4 separate regions of the Homo sapiens genome follow, and regions 2, 3 and 4 are each linked to region 1. Evidence: fine-mapped expression QTL. A gene starts in region 1. Each other region holds a variant in brackets. All regions are shown on one strand. Distances are from middle to middle. Region 1 holds the start of HEXB (hexosaminidase subunit beta). Region 2 overlaps FAM169A (family with sequence similarity 169 member A). Region 3 overlaps HEXB (hexosaminidase subunit beta). Region 4 overlaps HEXB (hexosaminidase subunit beta).

Evidence for each region.
Region 2: its variant is fine-mapped to the expression of HEXB in whole blood (INTERVAL, PIP 0.94).
Region 3: its variant is fine-mapped to the expression of HEXB in whole blood (TOPMed, PIP 0.94).
Region 4: its variant is fine-mapped to the expression of HEXB in whole blood (TOPMed, PIP above 0.99).

Annotation. Positions count from the first base shown.
Region 1 is chr5:74,684,127-74,686,813 of GRCh38, reverse strand. HEXB (hexosaminidase subunit beta) reads right to left here and starts at 1,581. Exons shown (of 14, transcript NM_000521.4): 1 at 1,255-1,581. The coding sequence starts at 1,553. RefSeq lists enhancers at 604-693, 704-753, 814-863, 1,369-1,869 and a silencer at 1,554-1,893.
Region 2 is chr5:74,824,538-74,827,224 of GRCh38, reverse strand. The region is part of intron 5 of FAM169A (family with sequence similarity 169 member A); the gene reads left to right. Among named protein-coding and RNA genes, the nearest start is that of FAM169A-AS1, 40 kb to the left of the region's middle. The variant C/T (reference allele first, on the strand shown) is at 1,404.
Region 3 is chr5:74,705,451-74,708,137 of GRCh38, reverse strand. All of the region lies in intron 6 of HEXB (hexosaminidase subunit beta), which reads right to left. Among named protein-coding and RNA genes, the nearest start is that of HEXB, 22 kb to the right of the region's middle. RefSeq lists enhancers at 968-1,468, 1,469-1,969. The variant C/T (reference allele first, on the strand shown) is at 1,569.
Region 4 is chr5:74,720,191-74,722,877 of GRCh38, reverse strand. It overlaps HEXB (hexosaminidase subunit beta), which reads right to left. Exons shown (of 14, transcript NM_000521.4): 12 at 2,360-2,450; 13 at 2,131-2,235; 14 at 1,590-1,760. The coding sequence ends at 1,703. GFM2 (GTP dependent ribosome recycling factor mitochondrial 2) reads left to right here. Exons shown (of 21, transcript NM_032380.5): 20 at 317-499; 21 at 1,095-1,672. The coding sequence ends at 1,223. Among named protein-coding and RNA genes, the nearest start is that of HEXB, 36 kb to the right of the region's middle. The variant G/A (reference allele first, on the strand shown) is at 1,391.

The sequences.
Region 1 (2,687 bases):
TTCATGTACTTTCCATGCAATCTTTCTGAATATCCCAATGCAACCAAACACTTTGGTTCTACATCTTAACCCCACTCTGGCCTTAGCAGATTGGATACCAAAGGCTCATTAGTGTGTGTGTCTAAAATAGAGACTGATAATACCCATTTAGTTGTACAAAACAGAAGGAAACCATGAGCCTTCTGATTGTAGAGAATGAACCATTTCTGCCATCAGCATCTTGGGCCTCTGCAGCTTGAGCCTAGGCACCTGTCCTATCTGGGGTCAGAACACATTATTCAGTTAGTTTGACATTCCCTCCCCACCTGTTCAGGGTCCTGCAAGCACACTTAAGCTCTATAGTATCCACTGGGTACAGCGACAGGCTTGGGGAATGCCAGGAGGCAGTACAGTTAGCACCAAATTACAATTCTGCAGGGCACGATACGCCTTCAGGACAGTCCCACCTACACAGGTCTCACACTGAGGGGACAGTGTGTGGCGTCTTCAAACATCTCCCCAGGGGAACCTGCCTTGTCTATGGTGTGATTGGCTGACTCCCATGACAAAACTCACCCTGTCTGCAGCCAAAGGGTGAGAGAGACAGAGGCGCTATCTAGGGGTCTGTAAAAGAGGAAGCAGGGAGAGCAGGCAACATGATCGGTGTTGAGAAACAAAGTTGGATACTGCCTAACCACTGACCGCAGAAACGTAGTCAGATGCAAACATGTCACATTTTATATGGAAGAGATTTTAGGAGAGAGGGCAGTTTTAGGCAGTGCTCGAAACTGAGGACTTCTGCCATTTGAGCTGTTACCAGGAGATGTGAGGAGAGGTGAGGGGGCGAAACTGGCCTATAAATGACAGTCAGCTTTGGGGGATTCCTGGTCCCTCAAGAGAGCTTGTCTAAGCCCTTCGGGTAACTTATCCCTTTGCACGTCCTTCAAATAAGGAGCTGTCACTTTCCTCCCCAGCTCCGGTGTCCCCTCCGTCCATGCCATTTGCCCAACAAGGCCTCAGAGCAAACTCCCTCTTCCACTTACTATCCGGCTCTCAAACCAGGGTTCCTGAGCACCCAAGGTGTCCCTTAAGAAGCAGTAGGAGGGTGGGGGCAAGAGCGTGGGTTCAGTCCATGTGGCGCTGGGCAGATCGCCTGCCAGCTCCCAGGCGGTTTCTCGTCTGCGCAGTGGGGTGGTGAGGGTCTGCACAGCGCTCCGGGGTGGTCCGCCTCTCCCCTCCCCCAGGACAACTCCCGGCCGGGCCGGGAGCGCTCACCGTCGAAACGCTTCCTCCAGCAGGGTGCAGGAGGGGCCCGCCGTGGAATTGGGGCTGTGGCTGATGTAGAAGTTCTCCGGGGCGAGATGCAGCAGGTTCGGGGTCATCTTCACCAAGAGCGGCAGGGGCCACAGCGCCGGCCCCGGCTTGGCCGAGACGCTCGGGGCCCGAGCCGCCTCCGCCACCTGCACCACCAGCGCCACCTGAGTCAGCAGCGCCAACATCGCCGCCAGCAGTGTCGCCAACAGCAGCGCCAGCAGCATGGGCGGCCGGGGCAGCCCCAGCCCGCACAGCTCCATGGCCGCTCGGCTGCTTTCCGCCCGGTCTGCCGAGCCGGAGCCTCGGGACCCGACTTCCCGCCCGGCCCGGATCAGAGGAAGCGCGGCCGCGGGTGAGTCACCGAGTCAGATGACTGCGCGCGCCCGCCCCCGACTCCGCCTCCAGGCCCCGGGAGCGTCCTCGCCCAGCCCGCCCTGTCCAGGTCACCTCGAGAATTTCCTCCAGGGGTGCCCTCGGGTAGGAGCAGAGCCCAGACAGCAACCTCAAACACGGGATGGCTAAAGTAAGAAAAATGCCCGGTGCTGGCCGTACGTGGTGGCTCACGCCTGTAGCCCCAGCACTTTGGGAGGCCGAGGCGGGCGGATCACCTGAGGTCAGGAGTTCAAGACCAGCCTGGCCAAATTGGTGAAACCCCGACTCTACAAAAATACAAAAATTAGCCGAGCATGATGGCGGGTGCCTGTAGTCCCAGCTACTCGGGAGGCTGAGGCAGGAGAATCTCTTGAACCCGGGAGGCGGAGGTTGCAGTGAGCCGAGATCGCACCACTGCACTCCAGCCTGGGTAACAGAGCAAGACTCCGTCTCAAAAAAAAAAAAAAAAAAAAAGAAAAGAAAAAGAAAACGGCCCAGTGCACAGGCTCGGGACGCCAGGCCGACACCGGGTCGCCGCTCACGCTGTCAACACGGGCGCTCTCCTGTGGATCCCTGGCTTCGGTGAAGCTGGAGAAGCCAAGCTTGAGGAGCACCTTTCTCCTCTCAGCCCAACCACCAGATAACCGAGATGAGAGCTGAGTTTATTTGCTCCTAAGTCTAGGCTTTTCTGTAACAGCACTTCAGCTGTGGTCAATAAAGCCTTCCTATCAGAACTCCCTGGGGCAGAGCATGCCCAAGGAATCCTGAGAGAGAACATCTTGGCTCATCTGTGTGGGTCCCGATATAAAGGATCCCAACTGACAAGTTTGATTTCATAACCCATCCCTAAGGAAGAGCCAGTGAAGTCACATGACGAACACGGACTGGAGATGCCAAAGGGAGAAGAGGTGTTCTCTTACCAGAAGGAGAAAACGCTAGGCAGACCAAAACCACAGATCTGCTATATAAGTATTCTGAAAATGAGGGTGGAAGAGCTTTAAGGAAAGACTTCAAAGAAATGT
Region 2 (2,687 bases), 140 kb before region 1:
ATGTTATTTATTAACTGCAAAGGGAAAAATGGTAAATTTACACAGAGAAACCTGGCAGGTACCATGTTAACCAACAGATTATGGTTAACATCACTAGTAATAAGACATATCAACATCATGTATCCCATGATATATGATGTACTGAGAAGGGCACAGTATCATTCTGTAGCATTTTTGCCCAAAATTTATGATCTCAGTTCATTCATGAGAAACCATTAGACAAAGCCAAATTAGGAGAGTTATTCTATAAAGTAACTGACAATCAGCCATAGTGTCAAGGTTATGAGTGACAAGGGGAGATGGAGGAATTATCGAAGACCAGAGTTTAGGGATATATTAAACTAAATGCAGGAAGGAATTCTGGATTGGATTCTGAAACAGAAAAGAACATTAGTGGAATAATGTGTGAAATTTGAATAAAGTCTGTAGTTTAGCTAACAGTATTATAGCAATGTTAATTTCCTGGTTTTGATAATAGTATTTTGGCTATATAGGATGTTAACATTAGGGTGAAGGGTATATGGGAGCTCTTTGTAATGTTTTTGTGACTTTTCTATAAGTCTACAATTGTTTTTAAAATAGTTTTTTAAAAGTCAACAATATGTCAGAAATAACATCTTCTGTAATTATTGATTGAAACTTAGATGAAAATTTTTAGATATCACAAGGATGTGTGAATATATGGTATTTCAAAATTATTTTATGGCTACATGAGCAAAAACGTCTCCTTTGAGGAGTTTGACTAGGCCAAAAGAAAAAAGAAACTAAAAATACCAATATAAATGGTTCCCCTAGGAAAGGCTCCAGCCATATCATCCTGCTGTGAGGTCCATTGCCAGCAAGCCCCACCATACACACAGAGCTTCTAATTAGCTTTTTAATATCTCATTCTTAATTATGAACAGATAGTCATAGGTAAGGAAGGCCACTGATGTGAAAAATGGTGATTAAAGCAAAAGAGAGTAAAAGAGATTTGGAGGAGAAGACAATGCAAAAAATGTGGCCCTTAAAATTTTTGGAAAAGTTAGTCATTGCATTTATGAAATAAGAACAAGAATGTTCACAGAGCTCTTAGAAACTAAAACAAATCCAATAGAGTTGGAGGAGGTTGATCAGAAAGGAGTGCAGAAACAACAAAAAACAAACCTAAATGATGGTAAATAGGAAGAGATGATAAAATTAGAGGGATTATTTAAATAATACATGTTTCAGGAGGAGAGAACAAATTGGAGGAGAAAAAATCACCAATAAAATAATTCACTAACATTTCTCAGAACTGTAGAACACACATTTCCAGATTAAAAGGGCCCATTGAGCATCCATCACAATGAATTAAGATACACTCATACCAAGATTATTGTGAAATTTCAGAGCATCTGGAATAGAGAAAAGATTTTGAAAGC[C/T]TCCATAAAGTGAGAGAATGATTTAGACAAAAGATCAAGAATCAAAACGTTACTAGAGTTCTCAACAGCAACATGAATACTAGAAGTGGAATAATGCCTTTAAGATACCAAGGGTAAAGTGATTTCCAGTGTGTTCTGTGCCCCGTCAAATTAATAAAGAGTGAGAGTGAAAGAAGGAAATTTCTAGACTGTCAGTCTTAAAACAATTTACCTTTTATATACCCCTTTTCTGGAAGTGAGTAGAGTTTGTGCTCTCCTAAGATAAAGAAAATCAAGAAGGAAAGATGGGATTAGGAAACTAAGAGAGAAAAGAAAGGAGATCCAACATCACAGCTATGTCAGTTGTGGAGCTGCTCTTTGTTAAAACCACTAGCTTTATGTGGCTGTTGAAGTTAAATTTTAAAATTCAGTTTCTCAGTCATGCTGGCCACATTTTAAGAGCTCAATGGCCACATGTGACTAGTGGCTACTGCATTGGACAGAGTAGATACAGAACTTTTCCATCATTGCAGAATGATCTTTTGGACATTTCTTTTTCTAAAGATTGACTGATCTAGATTGGAGCAGATCACAAAGCTCTGGGACGTTGATTTAAGAAGATAGAGTTCATAGAATACCTGATGTATTTGAATTTATTGGGATAAGATTTACATAGTTACTGGAGACTTTGGAGGATGAGAGAGATAGTAATAAATATTATTAAGGGAAATCAAAAAGTGTAAGAATAAAGATAAAAATAAACATTCATGGTACACTATATGGCTCAGTTGTCAAAAGCATTTATATAGTCATAATGTAAATACTGAAAATTGATCTAACAAATCACAAATTACTATTTAGGGGTGTTGGGGTTTTTTGTATGGGAAGTGTGTTTATGTTGGAGTTGAGATTGGGGTGTGTGAATGTATTTAAGAGCTAAATTCTCACCTTCCAAGTTCTAGCTATCTATGCCTAAAATGGAAAAATGAAGAAATAGAAATCAAGAGGTATAGTAAGTTACTTAGAGAAGTAGAAGTAAATACCGAAAATATCAGCTAAATGACTTCAAAATGGTTGCTTTTGGGGTGTAGAAAGTGTGTTTGTGTGTGTGTATGTGTGTGTGTGTGTGTGTGTATGTGTGTGTATCAGGAAAGTGGTCACAGAGCTGCTTTTTTTTTTTCTTAAGTCTTATATGACTATTGTATTCTAAACAATGTTATGGATGACTTTGATTAAAAACAAGAAGTATACATTTAAAAAAATGAGGCCATGTCCAAAGTGTAATCACTATCTACCACAAAACTA
Region 3 (2,687 bases), 21 kb before region 1:
TGAATATTGGCCCCCACTGTCTTCTGGCTTGTAGAGTTTCTGCCGAGAGATCCGCTGTTAGTCTGATGGGCTTCCCTTTGTGGGTAACCCGACCTTTCTCTCTGGCTGCCCTTAACATTTTTTCCTTCATTTCAACTTTGGTGAATCTGACAATTATGTGTCTTGGAGTTGCTCTTCTCGAGGAGTATGTTTGTGGCATTCTCTGTATTTCCTGCATCTGAATGTTGGCCTGCCTTGCTAGATTGGGGAAATTCTCCTGGATAATATCCTGCAGAGTAGGACTTGGTTCCATTCTCCCCGTCACTTTCACTTTCAGGTACACCAATCAGATGTAGATTTGGTCTTTTCACATAGTCCCATATTTCTTGGAGGCTTTGTTCATTTCTTTTTATTCTTTTTTCTCTAAACTTCCCTTCTCACTTCATTTCATTCATTTCATCTTCCATCACTGATACCCTTTCTTCCAGTTGATCACATCAGCTCCTGAGGCTTCTGCATTCTTCACGTAGTTCTCGAGCCTTGGCTTTCAGCTCCATCAGCTCCTTTAAGCCCTTCTCTGTATTGGTTATTCTAGTTGTACATTCGTCTAAATTTTTTTCAAAGTTTTTAACTTCTTTGCCTTTGGTTTGAATTTCCTCCTGTAGCTCGTAGTTTGATCTTCTGAAGCCTTCTTCTCTCAACTCATCAAAGTCATTCTCCGTCCAGCTTTGTTCCATTGCTGGTGAGGAACTGCGATCCTTTGGAAGAAGAGAGGTGCTCTGCTTTTTAGAGTTTCCAGTTTTTCTGCTCTGTTTTTTCCCCATCTTTGTGGTTTTATCTACTTTTGGTCTTTGATGATGGTGATGTACAGATGGGTTTTTGGTGTGGATGTCCTTTCTGTTTGTTAGTTTTCCTTCTAACAGACAGGACCCTCAGCTGCAGGTCTGTTGGAGTTTGCTAGAGGTCCACTCCAGACCCTGTTTGCCTGGGTATCAGCAGCGGTGTCTGCAGAACAGTGGTTTTTCGTGAACCGTGAATGCTGCTGTCTGATCGTTCCTCTGGAAGTTTTGTCTCAGAGGAATACCCGGCTGTGTGAGGTGTCAGTCTGCCCCTACTGGGGGGTGCCTCCCAGTTAGGCTGCTCAGGGATCAGGGACCCACTTGAGGAGGCAGTCTGCCCGTTCTCAGATCTCCAGCTGTGTGCTGGGAGAACCACTGCTCTCTTCAAAGCTGTCAGACGGGGACATTTAAGTCTGCAGAGGTTACTGCTGTCTTTTTGTTTGTCTGTGCCCTGCCCCCAGAGGTGGAGCCTACAGAGGCAGGCAGGCCTCCTTGAGCTGTGGTGGGCTCCACCCAGGTGGAGCTTCCCGGCTGCTCTGTTTACCTAAGCAAGCCTGGGCAATGGCGGGCACCCCTCCCCCAGCCTCGCTGCCGCCTTGCAGTTTGATCTCAGACTTCTGTGCTAGCAATCAGCGAGACTCCGTGCACGTAGGACCCTCCGAGCCAGGTGCAGGATATAATATCCTGGTGTGCCGTTTCCTAAGCCCGTCGGAAAAGCACAGTATTCGGGTGGGAGTGACCCGATTTTCC[C/T]GGTGCCGTGTGTCACCCCTTTCTTTGACTAGGAAAGGGAACTCCCTGACCCCTTGCGCTTCCCGAGTGAGGCAACGCCTCACCCTGCTTCGGCTCGCGCATGATGCGCTGCACCCACTGTCCTGCGCCCACTGTCTGGCACTCCCTAGTGAGATGAACCTGGTACCTCAGATGGAAATGCAGAAATCACCCGTCTTCTGTGTCGCTCATGCTGGGAGCTGTAGACGGGAGCTGTTCCTATTCGGCCATCTTGGCTCCTCCCCCCGAAATGTGAATATTGATTAGCTGTCTAGATTACTCTTAATTTTTTAGCTGCAATCATGTATTATGGTTATTTTTTCTTAAAGAACAGGCCTTTTTACAGTGAGATACAATGATGGATTTTATTCAAAACAACAGGATGGGGCAGGGCTTGTCCGCAGGAGTTTAAGTGATACAAGGTTGACCATGTATTCATGTTTGAACTGGCATGATGAGAACATGGGAGTTCATTAAACTATTCTGTATCTGTATATGTTTGAAATTTGCCATAATAAAAAGTAAAACAAAAGGAAACAAAAACACAAGTGCTGTTAGCACATTTTAGCCTACATACCTAACATTGGAGAAAGTTTTGGAATTATGGCCGGAGGACAGAATTTAGAGTCCTGGCTCTGTCCCTTCCTAACCACAACTTTACACAAGGCACATCATTTCTCTGGATGTCAGGTACCTTCTTTGTATTACAGGGGTATTAAACTAGGGGACACTGAGGGTCCCTCCCAGATCCATTGGTCCATGATACAGTCAATTTGAACACTGTTAACTGAGACTACCATTATTTTCTAAGAAAACACTCTCACCTCTAAAATTCCCTACTTCATGTAGTTTCTCAGAGAGAAAAATAGTCATTTATGGATTTCCAAACAATTATGTTTAAAACAAATACACTGTTGGACAACTTGATAAATATATTATCTTAACCATATGTAATTTGAGAATTATTCAGGGCTTCTACCTTGTTAAATTTCGATTTACACTTCCCCAAGATTGTTTATATTCACAGTAACAATTACAGTAACCGTTATAACAATAACAAAAAAAGTTTTATGGATGTAAAATGCTAAGTCACAGCCAAAA
Region 4 (2,687 bases), 36 kb before region 1:
GACATCAGGAACAGAAACATGAGGTTTAAATATGAACAAATGAATCTTTGAAAGGGGAGGACTTTCTGTGACTCTGACCACATGTTCACAGGCATTTTTTATAAACATCCCCTTGCATCATACCATACAAAAGATCTATAAATTCTGTTATCATGCTTATTATACAAGCAAATATTATAGTTGTTGCCATCTTATAAAACGTTATCTTTAAAGAGAGAGTTAAAGCAAGCTTATGTCTTTTTGTATGAGCTCTAGGCTGTATTTATTTTAAGTTTTTATTTATGAAAGATAAGTTAACATTCTTTAATTTCTTTAGGCTCTGAAGAAAGCTGATAAGCAAGTTTTGGAGCCTCTGATGAATCTTGAGGTTACAGTAGCTAGAGATTATCTCAGCCCTGTCCTGGCAGATCTGGCACAAAGAAGAGGAAACATTCAGGAAATTCAGACTCGCCAGGACAACAAAGTTGTTATTGGATTTGTTCCCTTAGCAGAAATTATGGTAGGTACTTTGTAACTGAAAAGTACATATTCTTCTTAATTCAGGGGATATTATATGCCAATGAATAGACAATCAGTAACCTGAAAGAAACATTAAGGCTTTGATTTAGAGAATACATGTTAAGTTTCGTTTCAACCAGCAGGAATGGTTAGGACTTTGAATTTAAATTGTTGGCGAAATCCAGGGATTATAGCACTACAAGGGGGTATTTACAGTCCCAAAATGTGGTACCAGCCTATATGACCATTTTTTCCCTGCCAAGCATTTATCTTACTTCCACCATTGTCAGTTTTAAGGCAAGTTATCATTCTTCTCCCGTCAGCCTCTTCTGCTCCAGGACAGGCACCTGGGTTGCCGGCAAAGCCATCTAACAAATACATCTGCAGCACACTTGCACTACTCTGCTTTCTGTCCTCAATGTTTTTATATCCAACTTACCCTGAAAAAAGTTAAATCATCTGTTTGGAGGAAGTGATATGGCTAAGCCACAAAAGTGGCAACATCACTTTTCCCTAATAGTCAAAAGATAATCAGCAGGAAGAGAAACTTGAGGCTTAAATTTGATAATATAAATGACTTAAATTATTTTGATTAGGGTTATTCAACTGTGCTTCGAACGCTAACATCAGGCTCAGCTACTTTTGCCTTAGAACTATCTACTTATCAAGCCATGAATCCTCAAGATCAAAATACACTGCTCAACCGGAGAAGTGGTTTGACCTAAATGTTTTAGTTTTTGGAGAGAAATTCAGGAGCACCTAGCTACTTCATTTTCAGTAAGAACAATTTTTATTGCTTTATTTATTGGACGAATAAAGTACTGTTTCAGTACATTCAGAGAACTAGATAAAAGATATAACTTAAGCTTTGATAGTGGCACTGGAGCCACCC[G/A]TTTTAATTTATATAATGAGAAATGTGCTTTGATGTTTAAAGCCACTGTACCTGAATCATGCTGTTCATCTATGAAGTTATTACTATAAGTAGCCTTCAGAAGAGTGGTATCACAAAGTTGTGTTTCTTTTGTGTCCTTAAGCTTGTCTCACAAGAAAGATGCCAGGCCTCTAAATGTAATAAGATAGAGGGTCAAAGGTTCAATCAATAAAAATATTTTATTCAAAAAACAGTCTAATATCTTATTTTACATGATTTCAAAATAAAGTTGATTGTAGTACAGATTGCTGTGGCCTTTTTCCCCTCCATTTTTTACATGTTCTCATGGTTACAATATCCAGCATAAAGAGGTTGTGCAGCTATTCCACGTCTGTAGATAACATGAATAAAGATATTTTAGATTGATTTAGATTGATATCATTCATAAAGATATTTTAGATTGATATTCATGTCATCTTAGAAACTTAAATTAGAATCACTAAATCACAGCATTACTGAAAATAAGGGAAGAAAATTAAAGCAACTCAAGATGGAGTTCTAAGTTACACCAACATTTTTTGTATCTATAAAACAGTCACAAGTCTGAATATATCTTTACAGGTATTATTACTTACAAAAAAATAATTCCTGGTTTCTTCTAATTACTATTTGTTAGGTAACATACATTTCTATTTATAGCAAAAGAAACTAACACTGAATAAGAAGGTTAAAAATCACACTGGACTTAATAGATTTCTTACTCGACCATCCTGCAGCGGTGCCTTGTCAGTCTGTCATAGGCGTCATCCATATCTCTGACATCTTTGGAACTCCAGAGTCTCTCACCAACAGCACTTGCCCGAGGCCTAAAATTTAAATCACACATCCCCCCGCAAGCAGTTTAAATTTATGTTTAGCACTTTTGTGTTTAGACAGAGAAGGAAAGCTAAGGCACCTTAATTCTTAAATGTTATCAGGTAAATCCCATACCATAATCTTGGAGTGAGGTTAGTTGCATCCACATATTCTCCCCATAGACAAGCTTCTCCACCAATGAAAAGTTGTTTCTGTTTCTGAGTACCTAAATTAAAATCATTGAATTAAGTTCAGAAGTTCAAAGCTTATACACAGAGGCAATATTTCATCAAGATTTGTTTCCTCCATCTTTATCCTAGGGCAACATTTCTTGCCCGTGGTTAGCAGGACCTTGGGAGATGCTAATGGTTGTGGCACAAAAAAGATGGCCCCTCCTCTTCCCCCACCCCCCAAAAAAATGGTTGCAAACTTTATCCCCAGCCCTGACCCACGGTTCACAGCA